Linked DNA regions of Homo sapiens. The protein of the gene in region 1 interacts with the protein of each later gene in a pairwise test. Each region holds a gene or a part of one and is shown in the gene's direction. Other genes may lie near its edges.

Region 1 (7,075 bases):
TATGTGCCAGGTCATGTGGGACAGACACATGGGACCTGTTGCAGGAGGCTGAAGACGTAGCAAGGAGGGAGAGTTGGAGCAGCACAATCCTGGAAGGCTTCCTGGAAGAAGAGACCCTGGGATAGCACAGGAGCAGGAGCTGGATTTGAATAGGAGGAGAGAAGGTGATCCAAAGGAGGGGACAGCTTAGTGAAGGCAGAGAGATTGGAATGCTCAACCAGGAGAGAATAGCAGGTGGTCCTGACAGCTGGTGTCTGGGGCCCCCTGAAGTGCCTTGAGGTCTAGACTAGGGCCCAACTCACTGGAGCAGCCCAGGCAGGCCTGGATGGGAAGGCCCAGGGCCCTGCTTTGCCCATCAGTTTCCCCTTCTCTTTCGTTGCTGGGAAGAGTCTGGCGGTTGGGTGGCAACACCGGGCAGGTTCATCCTTAATCTCCCTCTGCTCATTTCCTCATCTGCAGAATGGAGCCAGTGTTACCTACTTTGCAGAGTGGCAGGCACGAGAGTGTAAGAACAGGAGCCGGACAGGGCTCGCCCGATCCTTCCTCCCATTACGTTCCAGAGGTTTCCCAGCATGAACGATGCATTTGGGTACATTTTCATCTGGGGTGCAGGTGGAACGGCCTCCCGGGACCATCTAGTTCAACCTCCTATCTTACAGATCAGAAAACAGGTCCAGAAAGGGCCAGGTGTTTATCTGAGGTCATGCAGCCTGTGGGGGCAGAGCCTGGCCCCTTCCACGGCCTGAAGCTGCCTCCCTGAGCCACTCTGGGGCCCTGTGAAGGGGCAGGCTCTGCAGGGCGGGGACCTGGTGTACACACAGCTGGAGGCTGGAGACAGGGTGAGGAGGCTCAGATTGCACAGCCGTCTTTCCTGGAGACCCAGCTTGGCCTCTCGCACACCCCTGACTCAGCTCCGGGCCTCTCTGCACTAGTGATATTGACTTTGATTAGTCATTTAAAAGAAGAAGGGAAAAAAATAGCCCTCGAGGCAGACAACAGCCACTGTGCTCAGCAGTGATGAATCAACCTTGCCAGCCTGGTGGCTTCCCCTGGGACACGCCTGGAGGCTGCCTGGCCTCTGCGCCTCTTGGAGGAGTCAGACTATTACATCCAGGAAGGTGTCCTGGAATCCTGGAGTCTCTGCTAGGAGAGACCACCAGGGCTGCCCCACCTCTGCCAGGGGAAGCTCAGGGCATCCAGCTCCCCGTGGTTCCAGCAGGGTCTGTTCTTCCTAGCAGTCTCCATGCTAGGGAGGTAAGGAGCACTCCCTCCCAGCCTTCCTGGTTGGAGGTGGTGTTTTTTGTTGGTTTTTTTTTTGTTTTTTTAGACGGAGTCTCGCACTGTCTCCAGGCTGGAGTGCAATGGTGCCATCTCAGCTCACTGCAGCCTCCACCTCCTGGGTTCAAGTGATTCTCCTTCCTCAGCCTCCTGAGTAGCTGAGACTACAGGTGTGCATCACCATGCCCGGCTAATTTTTGTATTTTTAGTAGCAACGGGGTTTCACCATGTTGGGCAGGATGGCCTCGATCTCTTGACCTCGTGATCTGCCCGCCTCGGCCTCCCAAAGTGCTGGGATTACAGGTGTAAGCCACCACACCCAGCCAATTTTTTTTTTTTTTTTAGACGGAGTCTCATTCTGTCATCCAGGCTGGAGTGCAGTGGCATAATCTTGGCTCACTGCAACCTCCACCTCCCAGGTTCAAGTGATTCTCCTGCCTCATCCTACCGAGTAGCTGGGATTACAGGCATGCACCATCACACCCGGCTAATTTTTGTATTTTTAGTAGAGATGGGGTTTTGCCATGTTGACCAGGCTGTTCTTGAACTGCTAACCTCAGGTGATCCACCCACCTTGGCCTCCCGAAGTGCTGGGATTAAGGCATGAGCCACTGCACCCGGCTACCCCTATAAATTCTGATTCAGTCTCTTTGGGGTGGATCCCTGGAAGCCGTTTTTGTTTTTTTTTTTTAACCCCCCCAAAGGATTCTGGTGCTCGCCCAGCTTTGAGAACTGCTGAATGCAGAACAAAAAAACACCAGGATGTTAGCTGGGCTTGGGGGCTCACACCTGCAGTACCAACTACTTGGGAGGCTGAGGCGGGAAGACTGCTTGAGCTCAGGAGTTTGAGACCAGCCTGAGCAACATAGTGAGACCACCATCTCTACACAAATTTAAAATTAGCCAGGTGTGGTGGCAGGCACCTGTAGTCCCAGCTACTCTGGAGGCTGAGGCTGGAGGATTGCTTGAGCCTGGGAGATCAAGGCTGCAGTGAGCTATGATCTTGCCACTGCACTCCAGTCTGGACAACAAAGCGAGATTCTGTTTCAAAAAAAAAAGAGCTGGGCGCGGTGGCTTACGCCTGTAATCCTAGCACTTTGGGAGACCGAGGCGGGTGGATCACCTGAGGTCAGGAATTCAAGACCAGCCTGGCCAACATGGTGAAACCCCGTCTCTACTAAAAATACAAAAACTAGCCGGGTGTGGTGCGGGTGCCTGTAATCCCAGCTACTCGGGAGGCTGAGGCAGGAGAATCGCTTGAACCTGGGAGGCGGAGGTTGTGGTGAGCCGAGATTGCGCCACTGCGCTCCAGCCTGGGCAACAGAGCGAGACTCTGCCTCAAAAAAAAAAAAAAAAGTGCCAGGACAAATTGGATGTTGGTTGGATGGGAGAAGAGGAGGAAGATGGCAGATGTCCTAGGTTTCTGGCTTGGGGTTCTGCGCTAGGCAGTTCAGAGGATGGGGCTCTGGCAAAACAGGTGGAGCCTGGTTTTGGCCAGGAGGCAGGCAAGGTGCCCGTATGATATCTGGGCACATCCGTCCGTAAGACACTTGGGCCTTTGAGTTTGTGCCCCACAGTTCCAGCTGCCACCTGCACAGCGAAGGGTTCCAAGTCCCCAACTCCAATCCAGCCCCCTCTCCAGAGCTGTGAATGCCACTCAGAAAGCATTGGTAGATCCCCAAGGGAGCTGGGCCCTAATTATTCCACAGAAATCTGTGTGTCCACTTTTGTTTTTTTGAGACAGGATCTTGCTCTGTCACCTAAGCTGGAGTGCAATGGCACGATCATAGCTCACTGCAGCCTCGACCTCCAGGGCTCAAGCAATCCTCCCACCTCAGCCTCCTGAGTAGCTGCAATTACAGATGCATGGCACCACGCCCAGCTAATTTTTGTAGCTTTTGATAGAGATGGGGTCTTGCTATGTTGCCCTGGCTGGTCTCAAACTCCTGGACTCAAGTAATCCTCCCACCTTGGCCTCCCAAAGTGCTGAGATTACCGGCGTGAGCCATCATGCTTGGCCACTTTATGTATACAGTGCCCGCCCTGGCCAGCCCAAGACACCAGGAAGACAGCATGCCAGGGTAGCCACATCACCTAGTTACATTTTGGTCAAGAGTGTGTCTGGGCTGGGAAACAGAGGAGGTGAGGGTGGCAGTGGGGCTCTGCCATCCCGCGTCCTTATCAGTTTATTCCGTGTCCAATGAGAACTGATTCCTTATCTGAGTGAATCTGGAGGACATCTCTAGAATGCTGCCACCAGGCTCTAGCTTGGATGTGGATGAGGGTGCAGGGGCGACAGAGCCAGGAGCCATCAGAATCCCACAAACTGAAATAAGCATCAGAACAAATGAAGAAATGAAACAGGAAGAAGGTCCTTCACTCGAACCCCAAATCCACTCCACAGACAGTGGTTGGGAAGGGCTTGGGGCTTTTCTTGACAGGAAATGCTACATGATCACTTATCTGATTCCTGGCTGTATTACTAGAGGTAGATCATATAGAAAGAGGGAGGGGATGGGCCAGATCTTTGGCATTGCCCAGACCACAGTCAGCAGCAGATTCAGTTTGTGTGCTGTATGACAGGAGACAGAGGCACAGTGGAACAACTCTTGGGCAGGGGCTGTAATTTGGGGTCCCTGGGAAGGATCTGAAAGGGAAGGAATACTTAAAAAGAAAAATCTAGGGAGGATGTGGATGCCGCCTTCAAATCTATAGCAGGGGTACCCCAGGGAGAGGGCACCCACAGGTTCTTTATGGCCTGGAACCAAACCACAGGGAAGAGAAGGACTCTAACAGTTGGGGCTGCCCGAGATGGGCAGAGCTGTCTGGGGAAGCTAGTGAGCTCACTGTCACAGGAGGTTTGCAAGCTGAGGCTGGCAGCTGAAGCCAGGGGGACTTTTCAGGTCCCTTAGGGCCTGAGAGTTTTCAGCCATGGCTCCAATAGGAATGTGAATGGCGTGTGGAAGAACAAGGTGCGAGATACTGATTTGGGGGGGCAGGGAGGCTTCTGGAAGGAGGTGGCATCGAGGAAGAAGGGAATGTCACCTTCATGGAATCAGCATCCCGGGCAAAGGGATGTGCCTGGGGGAAGTTGGGGGCAGAGGGTGGATTGTAGGGCCAGGAACCAGTTGTAGGTGTGGGGGAGTGGGGTCTGATCCCAGGGGAGGGCAGCAGGATAAAGAGCAGAGCTGGGGGTGAAAATTCCCAAGAACGAAGAAGTAGAAGGACGTGGGGAGGAAAGGCCCACTTCGCCCATCCCCTCTAGGTTTTGCTTGGAGCTGTGGCTGGTTTGACCATGCCTCAGAGGTCAGGCCCTCAGCCCCCCGACTGGCTTTGGGGCCAATCTCAATGCCACCTCCAGGGTAGACTTGACCTGCGTGCCCCCATCTACCCTGGCCCTGATCTCCCTTTCCCCAGCCCTACCCTCATAGACGGAGGGTCCAGAGGAGGATGCGGGCATCTCTCCTCCCAGCCCTTCTGTTAGAGAAGCTTCCTGGTCCAGCCTTCAGCCTTCTGGGAAGGTAGCAGGTCAGAGCTGGCCGGATGCCTGGAGAAGATCTGCCCTCATTACACAGATGGGCAAGCTGAGGTCAAGAGAGGCACCAGACAGGTGCCAGGGGTCTCTGAGGGCAGGACAGGGGTTCGGTGGGGCTGGCAGTGACGCTCGTCTCTGGCCACGGAAAAGGAGCTGGATAATTCTCCATCCACCCTTTGTCATCTACCCTGATCCTCTGAGCACCAGGGCAGAGAGGGCAGGACACTGAATGGCAGGAGCTCCTGGGGCCACTTCCCAACCTGGCAGCCTGCCCAGGAGGAGGAACTGGGCTCCTCCTGGCAGTGCTCTGCCTCAGTTTCCCTAGGGAGGGCTCCTCTGACTCAACTCCTAGGCCTGTCACGGTCTAAAAGCGTGAAAACGGCTCCTGGATTTTCTGTGTCTGTAGGGAGCTTGGTGGGGGAGGGGGTACCACCTGGTGACAGCCCCAGGCACTCGGTGGGGAGTGGGAACGAGGATTTATTTTAGCTGCTGGGGAGGTGGTACGATATCTTAAAGAGAGGAGGCCCCTCTGAGCCGCCTCTATCAAAGCTCCTAACTACCCCCTCTCCCCATGAGTCCCCACTTTGATGGGGTGATGTGAGCCCCTCACAGAACATGCTCAGGCCGGGCATGGTGGCGGCTCACACCTATACTCCCAGCACTTTGGGAAGCCAAGGTGGGAAGATCACTTGAGCCCAAGAGTTTGAGACCAGACTGGGCAACATAGTTTGACCCTGTCGCTACAAAAAAAAAAAAAAAATCAAAAAGTAGCTGGGTGTGGTGGCATGCATCTGATGCATCTGTAGTCCCAGCTGCTTGGGAGGCTGAAGTGAAAGGATGGCTTGAGCCCGGGAGGTTGAGGCTACAGGGAGTTATGATTGTGCCACTGCACTCCAGCCTGGGTGACAGAGCGAGACCCTGTCTCAATCAATCAATCAGTCCATCCATCAATCAAACAAACATACCTGCCCTGCTTCCCCACTTTTTCTCAGCCCTCCCTCCATGCAGCCAGGTGTCACTGTCCCCATTTCACAGAAGAGTAAATAGAGCCAGAGGGGTTAAGGCCCAGCCTGATGAGTCCCATCAGTTCTCTCAGCCCCTCAACCTCCACCTGCCTCCGTCCTGACGCGAGAGCACCGAGGTGGGGTCAGTGCTGAGCTAGTCAGTGGCCACTCCCGTGAGGCACTCAGAAATGAGGTGGGAACAAGATCAGATGTGGTGGTTCACGCCTGTAATCCCAGTACTTTGGGAGGCCGAGGCGGGTGGATCACCTGAGGTCAGGAGTTCGAGACCGGCCTGGCCAACATAGTGAAACCTGTCTCTACTAAAAATACAAAAATTAGCTGGGCATGGTGGCATGCACCTGTAATCCCAGCTACTCGGGAGGCTGAGGCAGGAGAATTGCTTGAACCCAGGAGGTGGAGGTTGCAGTGAGCCAAGATCACACCACTGCACTCCAGCCTAGGTGACAGTGCGAGACTCTCTCAAAAAATAAAAAAATAAAAATAAAAGAGGTGGGAACAAGCCCTGAGCCCCAGGCTGAGAGACCTCAGTCCCTGCCCCAGGGTGGCCACCCCGGATATCCTTGCCTTGGCTGCAGAGAGAGACCTGGCCTTGCCAGCAGCGTGGGCTGACCCTGGCCAACTGGCGGTATGAGGCAGACAGTAATAATTGTGCGCAGCATGCTGGGAAGTCAGAAGTATGATTACCCCTGCCCCACGATGGGGGTGGCTTTTGTACAGCTGGTCCTGGGACAGTGGAGTGGGGCTTGTAACTGTGGCTGAGGCCTAAGGCAGGACCCAAGCCAAGTGGCAACATGACTGTCCCCTTGTGCCTGCTGGGCCCAGGTCTGGGGACTGGAAGGAGGCAGACCGAGGTCCAATGGCAAGACCGACAGGGAGGCCAAGTGCAGTGGCTCACACCTACAATCCCAGTGCTTTGGAAGGCTGAGGCAGGAGGATCGCTTGAGGCCAGGAGTTCAAGACCAGCCTGGGTAACACAGTGAGACCCCCGTCTCTACAAAAATAAAAATTAAATTTAAAAACTGTTTTAAAAAAAGACTCACAGGAGATTCCTAAGAGATCTGATCCGTGCCACCTCGGGACTGGGGTTTAGTGGTGCCCAGGGCTGGGACACAGTAGGCAGGTCTCCCCTTATAGGGCCCACTCTGGAAAGGGAGCTTGGGACCTCTGGGCTCCACCTGAATTAAAACCACTGGAGCCAGGCATGGTTGTGGAAACCTATAATTCCAGCTACTCGGGA
Region 2 (7,734 bases), on another chromosome or scaffold:
TGGAGGTGTAGGGGAGGATGTCTTCATGGCTGACATAGTCCAAGCCTGGCACAGAGATGCAAAAGACAGTGGTGAAACTCACAGGAGAGGAGAGAGATGGGGTTGAGAAGAAACATTAACTGGCCTTGTTCCAGTATGGGATAACCCTGATATCATACCTCTCAGCATCATAATCCCTCCCAGTGGATGACAGGACATCAGAATCCTCTCCCTGAGACACACCAGACTCCTTCTTGACGGGCACCATTCAAATGCTAACTACTCACCTGGGATGGCATAGAGGGCCCGACTGTCATCATGGTTAGCCAAGAAGGTCACAGCTTCTGTCTGAGATCTCTGAGACTAAGGCAAGAAGTGAATCAGTGGTGAAACCATGTCTCTGCTAAAAAGTACAAAAATTAGGCTGGTGTGGTGGCAGATGCCTGTAATCCCAGCTACTCGGGTGGCTGAGGCAGGAGAATCACTTGAACCCGGGAGGCAGAGGTTGCAGTGAGCTGAGATCTCACCACTGCACTCCAGCCTGGCGACAGAGTGAGACTCCATATCAAAAAAAAAAAAAAAGACGTGAATCAGGGCTTTGTTGGCCACTGTGCAGTCCAAGGCCTTGGGGACCAAGACTGACCTGGGCTCTGTTTGACCCCCTTCCCTCCCTTTGTCCCCATTGGGATGCAGGACTTTCCATGGAGAGGACCCCCAAGCCCAGCCATCTTGCTTACTTACTATATGTGGGCAGTCACGAGCATCAATCAGCACCTGATAGTAAGTGTGAGTTTTGCCTTTCACCTCCTTGGAGCCATGGCCAGCAGGGTTCTCTGCTCTATGGGGTGGGAGAAGGAGGCCAAGATCACCCCAGGAGAAATGGAAGCTGTGGCTGACTCAGCTCCCTACTCCTCCTCACCTAAACAGGCTGGTCTCTGATCTAAAGGGGCTTTAGCACCAGCTGGACACCTGCTCTGCAGCACCTCAGCTCAGCTGCTCCTCAGTTGGGGCAAATAATAGAGCATGGAAGACCATGGTATGGAGCCATCATCTGACCGTGTGGATACCTCTTAAAAGAAGGGGGCCATGTTGAGAAAATCAAATTGCCACCTCAGTCCCCAGGGCCCAGAGTACTCTTGTCTTCTTATATCCCAGGGACTGTCTGTGATCACTTAATGGGGCTGAACCTTTTCTGTTTTAATGTATTCTAGGGATGATGTGAGATTGAGGGAAAGACTCCAGCTGAACATCAAGAAATCAAGAAGACTTGTCCCCCAAATGCCCTCTGGGATACTCATAATGAAAATTAGGAATGGCTTAGGAAAGCATTCTGAGGAGGCCTAAAGGGACTCTCTGACTTAGACTATCCCTGGCACTCAGCACTTTTGTCTCCATGGGTCTTAGTCCCAGAGAAGTACTCTGGGGATGTTTCCAAGGCCTAGGAGGACGCTGTCTTCACCCCTAGTACCCCAATTACATATGTCTGCCATCTCCTCCTGAGGATACTGTGAGGCACAACCACAGGGAAACTTACTTTTCTGGAGCTGCAGAAGCCACATCCCGGTCATACAGTCTGGCCTGCCAGGGAAACAGGACGACACCTCGGTAGCCAAAAATGCTATGAAGGAAAAGCTGGAAGGAAAGAGGGGCCTCAGTGAGTCTGCAGTCCAGCAAATCCATCCAGGTGGGCCCCAGACCACAAAGCAACACAGGTGGAGGCAACTCCAGCACAAGGTCTTGCTACCTCTTCCCTTGAAGTCTGTGATCAACCAGACCAATGCTGGAACACTCTTATTTCTTCTTTACCTGGCTGACTCTACTCATCCTTTAGGTAAAAGCTTAGGCCTCCAGGAAGCCTTCCCTGACCTCCCTTCCACTTAGCACAATGTACAGCTATTGGCCATTTGCAAATCGTTCTTTTCTAGACTAGAAACTCCACAATAGCAGGAATCATGTCTACTTTGCTTTCTGATTTAACCCTAATGCACAATGCCTAGTCCATTGTAGGCACACAGAAAAATAAAATGTTGAACAAACAAAAAGTCTTCCTTACCTACAATATCCTAGAAGGGCCTAAATCTATCCCAGTGGACCCAGAACAAAGCTGATATAGAAAAAGAACCACACATCCAGAGTTTACCACACTGAAGTCAATTTTATTACGGCAAAGCATCAAAGGTATACTTTTCTGAAAGCTCCCTCCACGGCTTCCCACCATCCACTATGTTAGAGAAATCTTCAGCAACTTGGCTAAACCTCACTATAGTCCACACCATCCCTGTCCACATTAACTTGGAAAGAGAACCCACTGACACATTAAGTGCATTCAAATCCAGGAGAACAGAAACCCTATCTATAAAAATTTGATTCTGGGCTGGGTGCGGTGGCTCACGCCAGTAATCCCAGGACTTTGGGAGGCCAAGGCAGGTGGATCACCTGAGGTCGGGAGCTCGAGACCAGCCTGACCAACATGGAGAAACCGCATCTCCACTAAAAGTACAAAATTAGCCAAGTGTGGTGGCGCATGCTTGTAATCCCAGCTACTAGGGAGGCTGAGGTAGGAGAACTGCTTAAACCCAGGAGGTGGAGCTTGCAGTGAGCCGAGACCATGCCATTGCACTCCAGCCTGGGCAACAAGACTGAAACTCCGTCTCACAAAAAATAAATAAATAAAATAAATAAATAAAATAAAAAATGAATACAAATTTGATTCTGGAATGGCACCAAACATCAAGGTGGAATGAATGGAACACCATACCATGCAGGCCTGTGACCTAATCTGACTTTTTTCAGAAGCAGAGCACTCTATGAAAATGAAAGATGACCCAGCCCAATACTCACCTGCCCGGTCTCATATTTTCCATTCTGTTTTGGCACCTCAAACACACCAACTGTCTCCAACACTTTGCCCTCTGGTCGGTTTCTGAGTAGGAAGGAAAAGAACAAGCAACAGAAAAGCTGAGAAGGTAATGGTAGTTATCCATAAGAAAAAGCTCCTAGGATACTGAGGGGCCAGGGCGATGACAGCAGAGAAGGGTTTGGGGTAGTGGGACCAGCTGGAGCAGGAAAGGCTTTCCTCCTCCTTGGTGAAAACCTCCACAGTCTCCCAGTGTTAGATGTGACCGCTCCCATACTACTGTCTTCTCTCTTCACTGGGCATTCTTCATATCATGCCCTCACACTCTGCTCAAATGTACCCCTGCCCTTGTTTCTTCCCTAACCCACCCTCCTGACCTCCCACAGCACTTTAACTGTCTTGCTCACTTTTTCAATTTTTTTAGAAGGGGAGTATCTTTTTTTCTTCTTTTCTTACATTTTCTATATCACAAGTCATCAAACAATATCCTGCTCCCTTTACATTTCAGTTGTGTCCATGTCTTATCTTTATTAAATACTGTAAATTCCCTGGGAGCAATGCCTGAGTCTGATTAGCTGGTACTGCCCCCTCAGAGCCTAGTGTACAAGAGGTGCTCAAAAAATATTTGTCCTGTATTATAATTCCATGTCCATCTCCCCCTCTAACCTGTAGCCCTTACATTGCCCTTGAAAAGCTTAAACATCTCTAGATTTCCTACGGCACATCGCTCTCTCAATACCGTTTTTGTTCATATTCTCACAGGGGTCTTAAATTGCAAATAGCTATCATCTCTCCCCAATGTTCAGTGTCTAATATCAGCCACTAAAATGTCAGTCACCACTCTGAACAGGGCTGCTCTTTCTAGGGGCCCTTCAAATAAAGGCTGTTTTTACTGTTTTGAAGATGTGAACTTTATGCTTCCTCCCACTGATCCACCAGCCCATTTGATCCGCCTGTCCCATCCGTGGAAACAGTTTCCACACCATCCCCATGGCCTCAAACCCCCTTCCCCAAGTCACAGATAGAAAATCGATCTCCCCAAAGTCACTTGGAAACCTGGGGCCTACGAGGGTCCACACCCAAGAGTCTCGTTTCCCACCTCTAGCATCTTTCTGAGGCAGACCTTCACCAAATCCAAAGGCTGAGGGTTCAAGCCAATGCCCTAGGGCTGAATTAAAAAGCTTCCCTCTGACATCGGTGCTGGGGACCCCAGCCGGGGAAGTAGGATTCACTTGGGGAGGGTAACCTGTTCCCCCCCAGGGCCAGCCCTGTACAACCAGGGCTCTGGGCCGCGCTGGCTTCCCTGCTCCTGGCACATGTCCCAGACAGCGCAGGTCGGCTCCCTGCTCGGGACCCTCTCCCGGGTCAAACTCCAGTCACCCTCAGCAGGCCCGGGCCCCTGGCCTCCGCACTGGCTAGGAACACGCTCTCTGGGCTCCAGGCCCAGTTCCTCGCGCCCCCTGGCTCCGTCCCTCACCGGGACGAGAGGTGCCTCCGCGTCGTCGTGGTCGACGCTGGCGAGAAGGCTCCAGCTCCGGCCGCCGCACAGAGCGGCCTTGGCCACCGGGCCCCAGTCAGCGACCGGGACCACCAGCGGCTGCCCACGGCCAGGGCCCGCCGGGCTGTACAGGCTGCCATGTCCCGCCCGAGCGCCCGCCCGGCTGCTGACACAGAGCCCGACCCGCGGCCGGGCGGCGTTCCGCCCCAGTCCCACACTGCCCCGCGCGGCGTCCCGGCCCTCTTGGCCCGCCTGGTCCCACCCCGGAGCTCAGAGCAACTTCCGGTGCGCTTAGCGTTACTTCCGGCGCGCGGCGGGCGGAAGTCCGGGTTGGGGTCACCTGACCGGAGAGCCGGCTAGATATGGCGTCCTCTTTGCTTGCGGGCGAGCGATTGGTGCGTGCTTTGGGCCCCGGCGGGGAGCTGGAGCCAGAGCGGCTACCCCGAAAGCTGCGGGCCGAGCTTGAGGCCGCGCTGGGGAAGAAGCACAAGGGCGGTGATAGCTCCAGTGGCCCCCAACGCTTGGTTTCTTTCCGTCTCATCCGGGATCTGCACCAGCATCTGAGAGAAAGGGGTGAGCCCCAGTCTCCAGTCCGGGGTCCCCTCCTTGTGTCCAGATCGATTCCCTCCTGAGGTCTTTTCCCATCATTCCCCTTCTTCTACGGAGCACTCATCTAGACAAGTCAAGAGTCACTCCATAAATCCCAGGGCCACCCACTTTCTTAACTCCCATGGGAATTTCTCGTGGATGACAAATTTGCTTGTGCAGTTTCTGCTCTTTTGAGAGCCCCCTCTTCACTTCCAGGCACACCTAGGCCCAATTCACCCTTGAGAAAGTCTAGGTTTTTACCAAATACAAATATCACAGGTTTTGTCTCTTCTTTTTCTCCACTTTAGGAATCAGCTTAGCATAGTGAGCTTGTAGGAATCCGGATTTCTTTCCACCTCAAAAGCAAGAGTGGTGAAATCTGATACTTTGTTTTGTTTGTTTGTTTTTTTAATATAGGATGGCAAAAGCTGTGTTGAAAGATCTGGCCTGAGAGTAGCATGTGAGTTCCAGTCCTAGCTCTGTCACTAATCCTTTGAAGGAGTCATTTCTCCTCGCTGGGCCTCAGTTCCCTTATGTGTAAAGGGAAGGAACAGGACAAACTAGCACATAAGGTATTTTGCCAGAAGTAACATAGACCAGCCAGAAGTGCAAAGGGTAGACTGCTCAATTATTAGAACTAGAAAGGACCTTAGAAAGAGATTGCCTAGTATTAGTGTCCTCTGAGCATTTAGCATCACTATGACCTAAACTTATTTAGGGAAGAGCTGTTGTGGCCACAGAACTGATCTAACCCAAAGGCACAAGTAAATGGCTTACTTGTTAGTTATAACACTGGCAGGATAATTGAGAGCTGACAGCTAAAGTCACCTGCGCAGCACTGGGAGATACCTACATGGAATTATCCAAAATTCTTTTCAATTGAAAATGATCCTGGAAATGGATTAATGTAGAGATGGCCCTGTTTTATTTTGGTAGAAAGAAGGGCTACACCCCTCTTGATCTTAACCCTTCAACCTCAGCTCGTGGATCATTGTGTTTGTGAAACCTTTTCTTCTCAGATTCCAAACTATACCTCCATGAGCTCCTAGAAGGCAGTGAAATCTATCTCCCAGAGGTTGTGAAGCCTCCACGGGTATGTAAGGGATATGTTTGTGAGAGTGGTTATTGACTGAGTTGGGCTTATCCATGATACACTGAACTTATAAATCAACTTTTAGGCTTGAAAAATTGTTTTTGAAATCTTTGGGATCTGGGGGAGCCAGATATTGTCCTCCCCATCAGCTGTTTGGAAAATTGAGATCAAAAAAAAAAAAAACAGTTTCAAAGCACTGGAGTTACGACTAGTATGTGGGTCTCCTGATACCTTTAGCAGTGCTTTACCCCTGGAACCAATGATTGTGATGTGCTTTCTAACAAGCTGGGAATATCATTCTTCTCATTTGATTTTTCTGCTTCAGAACCCAGAACTAGTTGCCCGGCTGGAGAAGATTAAGATACAGCTGGCCAATGAGGAATATAAACGGATCACCCGCAACGTCACTTGTCAGGTAAGGACATGCTCTTCAGTACGTGGTCTAGGTAGCCCCTCAGAGTAGGGCCCTGCAGTGGAAGAAGATACAGAGTTTAGAAAAAACATGGAAACTTGGTTTCTATACTGTTCAGGGACCATAGGAAGTCTGCATACAAACAACACAGTTCCCATCTCATTCACTGAGACTCTGGGCTGAGATGGTGACCAAGTTTTAAACGTCATAGAAGTGGGAGTTAGCCGGGCACGGCGCTCATGCCTGTAATCCTAGCACTTTGGGAGGCTGAGGTAGGTGGATCACTTGAGGTCGGGAGTTCGTGACCAGCCTGGCCAACATGGTGAAACCCCGTCTTTACAAAAAATACAAAACTTAGCCTGGCGTGGTGGCGGGCACCTGTAATCCCAGCTACTCGAGAGGCTGAGGCAGGAGAATCACTTGAACCCAGGAGGCGGAGGCAGAGGCTGCTGTGAGCCAACACTGCACCATTGCACTCCAGCCTGAGCAACAAGAGCAAGACTCCATCTCAAAATAAATAAATAAATAAATAAATAAGTGGGAATGAATCTTGGAGGCTTTTTTTCTTCTTCTTTTTTTTTTTTGAGATGGAGTCTCACTCTGTCACCCAGGCTGGAGGGCAGTGGCAGGATCTCTGCTCACTGCGGCCTCCGCCTTCCAGGTTTAAGTGATTCTTATGCCTCAGCCTCCCAAGTAGCTGGGATTACAGGCATGCACCACCACGCCAGGCTAATTTTTTGTATTTTTAGTAGAGACCACGTTGGCCAGGCTGGTCTTGAACTCCCAGCCTCAAGGTGATCCTCCTGCCTCGGCCTCCCAAAGTGCTGGGATTACAAGGTGAGCCACTGTGCCCAGCCATTCGAGCATTTCTTCTGACAGGGCTCCCTACTACTCTATGGCATGCTCCTACCCTGGAACAGGAGAGTAGATGGGTACTGGCAGCCTATGTCCTCTCTCCGAAATGCCTGCTCTGTAGTCCAGAAAAGAGTCAAAATGGTTCCAGACAAAAGAATCCATGGGGAGGGCAGAGTTAATATGTTGGGGAATAGAGAGGGCTGAGCCAGACTGTCAATGGATGCTCTCTGAGCTGCTTCTATTCTGAATCATCTTCTTTTTCTTTTTCCCAGGATACAAGACATGGTGGGACTCTCAGCGACCTGGGAAAGCAAGGTGAGGTACTAGGAGATCAGGCTTCTAAAACCTTTTCCTGAGATGGGTCATGACACTCAGGCTTGTTGTTTGACTGAAACCCAGTTGGTGGGGGAGCCATGAGATAAGAGCACCTCCTAGAGAATGTTGAACTAAAG
Region 3 (7,522 bases), on another chromosome or scaffold:
ACTGTGTGGGCCTGTGCTGTAAATGAGTGGCCTCGATGGGGGCTGCTGCAGCCTGCGGGAGGTGCACTGGGTGGTTAGAGTCAGCTCTGCAGGTACTGGGTTGGGGGCCAGGAGGGTTGGGAATACTGAGATTGGGGAAACACAGTCCAGGGCTTCTTCCCTAGGCAGACAGGTTGAGCGAGAAGAATGACAACATGAGTCCAGGGGGCAGGTCAGAGGAAGCAAGCAGATGCTCCAGTTGTGAGCCTGTAGCAAAGAAGGTTAGCACCACCAAAAATAGCTCCATCAAAGGTCCCTTATCGCCTCGTGTTGGCCAATTGCCATGACCCTCAGGTTTCCCTGCTGGGTTTCTCCATGGACTCTGACACTTGCCCCAGTTCCTTTCCTAACAGTCTTTCTTGGGCTCTCAGGACATTTCTTTTTTTCTGTTTCTCATCTCACAAATGAAACAGTGCATCTTGTTCTCTTTCACTGTTTCCACCATTTCCTTACCAGGCTCCTGATTTCAGTCTTCTTTCTCAAAAGGGTAGTGCATGGTAAGACATTTGGGCTCTGCTGTTTGCGAGGTGTGTGACCTCTGTTGCTCTGTTGACTTCATTCTTCCTAAGCTTCATTTTCCCAGGCTATAAATGTGGGACTGTTAAGAGTTCCTACTTTAGACCGGGCATGGTGGCTGAAGCCTGTAATCTCAGCACTCTGTGGGGCCAAGGCAGGAGGAACACCACAGGCCAGAAGTTCAAGACTAGCCTGGGCAACACAGTAATACCCTGTCCCTCAAAAAAGAGTTCCTACTTAATGAGGGTTGTTATATGGAATAAATAAATATATAATAGAATAAATAAATAAATAAATAAATAAATAAATAAATAAACAAATTGACAAGGCAAAACTTATTCCACTTCAGCAAAGCAAGTGTCAATATTCTACTTATGGATGAGTGGAGGAACACATGTTCAGATGAAATCACTTGTGCAAAGTGATTTCACTTTTACTTTTAAAAGTGTAAAAGGCTTAGTATGGGCCAGGTGCGGTGGCTCACGCCTGTAATCCCAGCACTTTGGGAGACTGAGGCGGGCAGATCATGAGGTCAGGAGATCAAGACCATCCTGACTAACACGATGAAATGCTGGCTCTACTAAAAATACAAAAAATTAGCTGGGCGTGGTGGCACACACCTGTAGTCCCAGCTACTTGGGAGGCTGAGGCAGGAGAATCGCTTGAACCCAAGAGGAGGAGGTTGCAGTGAGCCGAGATTGCACCACTGCACTCCAGCCAGGGCAACAGAGCGAGACTCCATCTCAAAAAAAAAAATGCTTAGTATGGGGTCTGGAGTGTACTAAGTACTCAATGAAAGTCAGCTGCTGTTACTTTCCCTCTCTTGTGGTTTCTAGGAGACCTTCTCCCCTCCCCTCATTTCAACTATCTCCTGTAGAATGACCTCCAAATCTGAATGTTCGGTCCGAGCTCCAGAGTGTCACCTGCATGTCGAATGGCAGTGAAGGGCAGAGGAAAAAGCATGGCCGCACATGATGGCAGACAAAGGCTTGTTCCTGTTCAGCACTAACAGCTGTAAACTTTGCACAAGTGATTTCATCTGAACATGTGTTCATCCACTCATCCATAAGTAGAATATTGACACTCGCTTTGCTGAAGTGGAATAAGTTTTGCCTTGTCTATTTCATCCATGGCACTTACCATGCTCTAGAATGACATCTTTCCATGCTCTTCCCCAGCTGAAATGAAAGTGAGGTCCTTGCCAGCAGGAGCCTTGCCTCCTTTCTCCTCACTCTATTCCTTGCCCCAGCAGTCTCCTAGCACAGGCTCAGTAACATCAGTTCCTCATTCACTTTCTCTCCTCCTATATCCCTTTGACTTCTCAAGGTCAGTATGTATCAAACCAAACAACTAATCATTGTCTTCACTAGACCTGACCCATGAATTTAACAAACAAGTATTAAGTGCCAGGGTTAAGGGTTGAGACAGAAAGAAGATAGTTGAGACATTGTCTCATTGATGGAAATGTTCACTGTCTACTAGGGAGATGGATAATGACACTGGAATATGTATTTGTGACAGGATTAGAGACATTTCTCAGGGGGCCCCAAGCATAGAGAAGGAATGATTCTGACTATAGGGGTTGGAAAAGCCCTCTCAGAGAAGGTGATAATTATCCTGGGTCCTGATGAAAGAGTAGAAATTTGCCAGGCAGAGAAGATTGACAGATGGCTAGAAGAGTGGTGTGATGGGGCATGAACTAACATGGTGTGTTCAGCTGGAATGGAGGGCTGACACCATTTTCCCCCATTTTCTTAAGTGGAAATTTGACACATACACAAGAATAGAAAAAAAAATAGTTTAACACCCAAATAGTATAAAACACCCAGGTGATCACCCAGCTTCAACAACTATCAGCTCATGGACAATCTTGTTCTACCTACATGCTTACTCACTAAACCCCCATACCATTATTTTGACACAAATCTCAGACATTGAATAATTTCATTTGTAAATAATTTTTGGTTCTACATGCTATAACAATTCTGTGAAAAAAATTTTAAATAAATAAATACTTTGGTATCTTAAAAAGTTAAAGTATATCCTCTTTTTGTCCTTAAAAAGGAGTGATACATAGCATACTCTAACACTGCAACTTGTTTGTTTTATTTGTATCTTAGCCATCTATCTGGTGACCACACTGTATCAGGATATGTAGAATTGCTTTCCTCTTTTAGGAGGCTACCTAGTATTCCATTTGTGAATAGTTAACCTAGCCAGTCACCAGCTGATGGGCATTTAGGTTGTTCCCAATCTCCTAACATAAAAACAAAGCTGAGAGAATACCCTTAAATATACATCTTTGCTACCTATGGGGATTCTTGGATGTGGAATTAAATTCCAGTACATTCTTGGATGTAGGTTACATTCTTGGACGTAGAATTGCTGAGATCTTGTGCACATGGATTCTGAAAGGTGCTCCCTATTTGGCCCAACAGGTGCTTTAAATGATAGGACAAGGATGCTTTCTCTCTGTTGTCCAGGCTTTTGACACTTTGGAGTTCTCTTTCTGTCCCTTCCTTCGTTTACTCAGTGACATATCATACCAATCCAACTACCCCCAGCCTCCTCCCTCCATGTCCACTGCTGTGGTCCTGGGTCAGGCCTGAGTGCTTTCTTTCTTTCTTTTTTGAGACAAAATTTCGCTCTTGTCGCCAAGGCTGGAGTGCAGTGGTGCAATGTCGGGAAAGTAACTGCAACCTCTGCCTTCCAGGTTCAAGCGATTCTCGTGCCTCAGCCTCCCGAGTAGCTGGGATTACAGGCACATGCCATCATGCTCGGCTAATTATTGTATTTTTAGTACAGACGGGGTTTCACCATGTTGGACAGGCTGGTCTCGAACTCCTGACATCAAGTGATCCGCCCGCCTGGGCCTCCCAAAATCCTCGGATTACAGGCGTGAGCCACCATGCCCAGCCAGGCCGGCGTACTTTCTTATCAGGACAGTTGTGGCTATCAAGTCAGCACGTATTCTAATCATCTGCCAAAGCGAACATCCTAAAACAGGAACGAAATCATTCTCTTACTTAAACACCTCTGTTGGTGTCTCATCTACATTATTAAAAATCTAACTCCTTAGCCTGCCTTCAGTGCACTCTTGTTTGTCCCCAGATTCTCACTTATTTCTCATATACCTTAGGCTTCACTGAAACTGGATTCTGGTGCCTTACCTGGGACCGTGTTCACCCATTCCCTTCTTTTTCTGCTTGAAGAAAAGTGTTGCTCATCCTTGAAGGTAAACTTAAACTCCATGTCCTCCATAAAGCCACACAGTGTTAAGGGCCACTGGTTTTGGACTCAGGTTGACTTGGATTCTTATACTGTCTCTCTTTTGGGGGGATGTCATTTAATTCTTCTGAAACTCAGAGTTTTCATCTGTTAGAGAAAGACAAAAATACCTACCTTGGAGGATGATTGTGAGGCTCAGGGATGCGGGAATATAGTAGGAGCTGAATTAAAAGCAATTCTGATTATTTCCGTGGTCACTATTGCCGCCCCACCGCACTTGATTGCAGCCCCTGGTGCTACACCAGCTACATTTGCTTTATGTGACAGCAGGTTGTGGACAAGACTGCCTTGATCTCTAGACTGCAAGCTCGCTGTGGGCCGGGCTCACGATTCACCCCCGGATCTCCCAGCCCTGGCACCAAGCCGGCACTGGGGGCGCGCCATGCCTGCAGAATAAGTGGGGAAAGCGACAGGGATAAACGTAGAAAAACAAGCACAGACAGACGGAGAGAGGGCAGACTGGGAGGCAGGTTTTTCCCGGAGTCTCCACCGAAGGACAGAGAGGGCGGAGTCAGAATCGGGGGCGGGGGCCTGGCTCAGGAGGTGGGGCCTGGTTCGGAGGCGGGTCTCGGCGCGGACCCCTCCCTGGTCCGTCAGTGAACGTGCTCCGCGGGCTCAGTCCGCCCGCCGCTGCGTCCCGGAGTGCAAGTGAGCTTCTCGGCTGCCCCGCGGGCCGGGGTGCGGAGCCGACATGCGCCCGCTTCTCGGCCTCCTTCTGGTCTTCGCCGGCTGCACCTTCGCCTTGTACTTGCTGTCGACGCGACTGCCCCGCGGGCGGAGACTGGGCTCCACCGAGGAGGCTGGAGGCAGGTGCGTGGCGGGAATCCGGGTTCGGGTCAGAGGAAGGGAGCCGGGTCCGAGGACCGGGGCTGGGAATCGGAGATTCGGAGATTCGGGTTCCGGTATCGGAGGCGTTGGGAATTGAGGTTCACTTATCGGACTGGAATCCGGGTCTGGTATCCGGGCCCGCGTCCGCACGGTCTCGGACAGAAGGGTGGATGGGAGCCCGGCTCCGGGCCTGACTGGGACCTGTGTGGTGCTGGCTGCAGGGTGTGCAGGGCGTCACGCCGCGGTGCCTTTGGTTGGGTGGATTTGCCGAGGGAGACGCGGCGCTGAGCCTGCCCGCGCCGTTGCTTTCCCAGTCCCAGCCCTGGGCCCCATTTCCAGCCCACCTTCGCCCCCGTGCGGGCCCCCAGCCTCTTCAAGTCCACTTTCAACTGTCTCTCCTCCTCCCCACCCCACTTACGTCAGGTCTGCCCTTGAGACTTTAGACATTAGATCTTCAGGAGAAATATTGCATAGACAACTTTAAATTATTCACGAATTAATTATCGACTCTGCCCGTCTTCCTGGTTGTCTCTACTTTTACCTTTTTTTTTTTTTTTTCTGAGACGGAGTCTTGCTCTGTCACCCAGGCTGGAGTGCAGTGGCGCGATCTCGGCTCACTTTAACCTCCTCCTCCCGGGTTCAAGCGATTCACCTGCCTCAGTTTCCCAAGTAATTGGGACTACAGGCGCGCGCCACCACGGCCGGCTAATTTTTGTATTTTTAGTAGGGACGCGGGGGGGGGGTCTCATTATGTTGGCCAGGCTGGTCTCGAACTCCTGACCTCAGGTAATCCGCCTGCCTCAGCCTCCCAAAGTGTTGGGATTACAGGCGTGAGCCATCGCGCCTGGCCTCCTTTTCCCCTTCTAATGAACGACTGGTCGAGGCAGGAGGCAGAGCAATACTTACCTGGCCGGTTTTTGTGAGTGCTGCATACTCTTTATAAAGTGCATGGAAGTGTGCCTAGTACAGCATTGCGTGGTTAAGGGAATTACTGATATTTGACTATTAAGGCAGCTGTTTTCAGTTACTGTATTCTTTTGCTGTAGCTAAGAAGGCTCTGCTGTGGGTGTCGGACATACCGAGAGAAACTCTCGTGAGAAGTAGGAGGGTTTGCTCATGATTAATCAGTGATGGATTCAAGGACTGTTCAGATGGCAGAGGCAAGATAGCCTTGCTACTATAACCCTTGGGCAGGATTCAAAGTGCATTGAGGACCAGATTAAGAGCAGAGTTAAATAGTAGGCTCTTTGAAAGGGTTCGATTCAAGCCTGACATATTATCAAAAAAGTTACATTTATCCTATGGGATAGATATACTTTCCTGAAGAATCTCTAATTGGCTTTATAGTGAATGCTAAAAAGTCGTTTTACTTGGCACCTCAGGAACAGTTTGAAGTCTGAATTGTTCTTGGTTTGTGGGGGAGGCAGTGTCCTTGAAAGGAAGGCAATTTGAGACATTTAGAACTTGCCTGGAAATGAATCCATTTGCCTCTTAAGAACAGATTCTAAAATCCCAGAGCTAAAGGGGAACTTAATGACTGTTTAGCACCAACCTCTCACTTTTTAGATAAGGAAAGAGACTCAGGGACTAGTCCAAGGACGTAAAACAGAAAGTAGCAGGGTTGGGATGCTAACCCAGGTCTCTTGCTTCCAAACTAGGGCTCTCCTGTCTGTCTCCGCAACGTCGTATCAGGTCATCTGTCATTGGGAGTGTATGTGTTCCCAGCAGATCAGATGATGGGCATATTTATAAACCTACTCTGAAAAGAAGACACAGCGAGTGACTTTCATGGGCACTGGACTGATCTGAACTCATGTTTCCATCTGCTTTTCCAAATCCCCAGGTCGCTGTGGTTCCCCTCCGACCTGGCAGAGCTGCGGGAGCTCTCTGAGGTCCTTCGAGAGTACCGGAAGGAGCACCAGGCCTACGTGTTCCTGCTCTTCTGCGGCGCCTACCTCTACAAACAGGGCTTTGCCATCCCCGGCTCCAGCTTCCTGGTCAGTGTCCTGCCCTCCCTCCAACCCTGTTTCCTTATCTGTAAAATTTGGATACTCCCCTGTAACCTCATGGGATTGTTGTGTGGGGATGATTAAAAGTGACAGTGGGTGTATCGGGGCTGGCACACAGTGGCCCTCAGCACTTACGGAGGGATTGAGCACCGAAGTGGGAGACACTGACAGCTTCCTTTTGTACTGCTTCCCTCTCCCACCCCAGCCTGTTTCTCTCCTCTAGGCTGAGGCTGGACCTGCTCAAACAGTTTCCTTGTCGGAAACTAGAAGAAAAGCAAACATGTCCAAGAGAGGCAGGGGAGGTGTGTGGGGCTCGGGGTCAGGGGCTGACTCCTTGAGGCTGCCCTGTGTCTGTCTTCTGTCTTGAACTGATCCCTCTTCAGGGCAGAGAGCCAGCTGCTGCTTGGTGGGGGCTCCACATCCAGACCTGAGGGTGAACCCTGACTCTGCCTGCTGTGCTCTTGGGGAGGATACTTAATCTCTCACCTGTAGAATGGGGCAAGGATGGCATGACTCAGGGATGTAGTGAGGATTACACAGGACATGTAGTCAAGCACTTAACACAGTGCTTAGCGGCTCCCCAGCTTCCCACTTCCAAGGCTTCCTTTTACTTTCTCTCTTGGATCCCATGTTTTGTCAGGATGATGTCTACCAACCAAAATGCATTTAGGAAGTATTGGTTCACTTTTCCCTTTTTCTTAAACCAAGACATCTTCAAATGTCTGCTAGAGCTCTGGTCAACATGGAACCCCGGTATTAACATACTGCATAGATGTAATTCCAGCAAAAAGCAAAGAAACAAGACATCTTACATAGCTTGTGTGGTCTTACCAAGGGAAAAT

What was found. The genes of interacting proteins can lie anywhere in the genome.
Region 2: the proteins of STX1A (region 1) and VMA12 interact in binary tests that used the Homo sapiens proteins (3 or more experiments, as listed by UniProt).
Region 3: the proteins of STX1A (region 1) and TMEM41A interact in binary tests that used the Homo sapiens proteins (3 or more experiments, as listed by UniProt).

What each region holds. Positions count from the first base shown.
Region 1 is NC_000007.14:73,709,670-73,716,744, reverse strand, and holds part of STX1A (syntaxin-1A), read left to right. Parts: intron 1-5,347; exon of another isoform or gene 5,348-5,428; intron 5,429-7,075. UniProt on the Homo sapiens protein: Plays an essential role in hormone and neurotransmitter calcium-dependent exocytosis and endocytosis.
Region 2 is NC_000017.11:28,352,975-28,360,708, forward strand, and holds the start of VMA12 (vacuolar ATPase assembly protein VMA12), read left to right. Parts: upstream 1-4,672; 5' UTR 4,673-4,696; coding exon 4,697-4,907; intron 4,908-5,941; coding exon 5,942-6,015; intron 6,016-6,340; coding exon 6,341-6,430; intron 6,431-7,554; coding exon 7,555-7,597; intron 7,598-7,679; exon of another isoform or gene 7,680-7,734. Other genes in the region: POLDIP2 (polymerase delta-interacting protein 2), read right to left, coding at 1-45, 267-342, 721-817, 1,514-1,611, 2,821-2,902, 4,314-4,474. UniProt on the Homo sapiens protein: Accessory component of the proton-transporting vacuolar (V)-ATPase protein pump involved in intracellular iron homeostasis.
Region 3 is NC_000003.12:185,495,974-185,503,495, reverse strand, and holds the start of TMEM41A (transmembrane protein 41A precursor), read left to right. Parts: upstream 1-4,460; 5' UTR 4,461-4,534; coding exon 4,535-4,653; intron 4,654-6,514; coding exon 6,515-6,668; intron 6,669-7,522.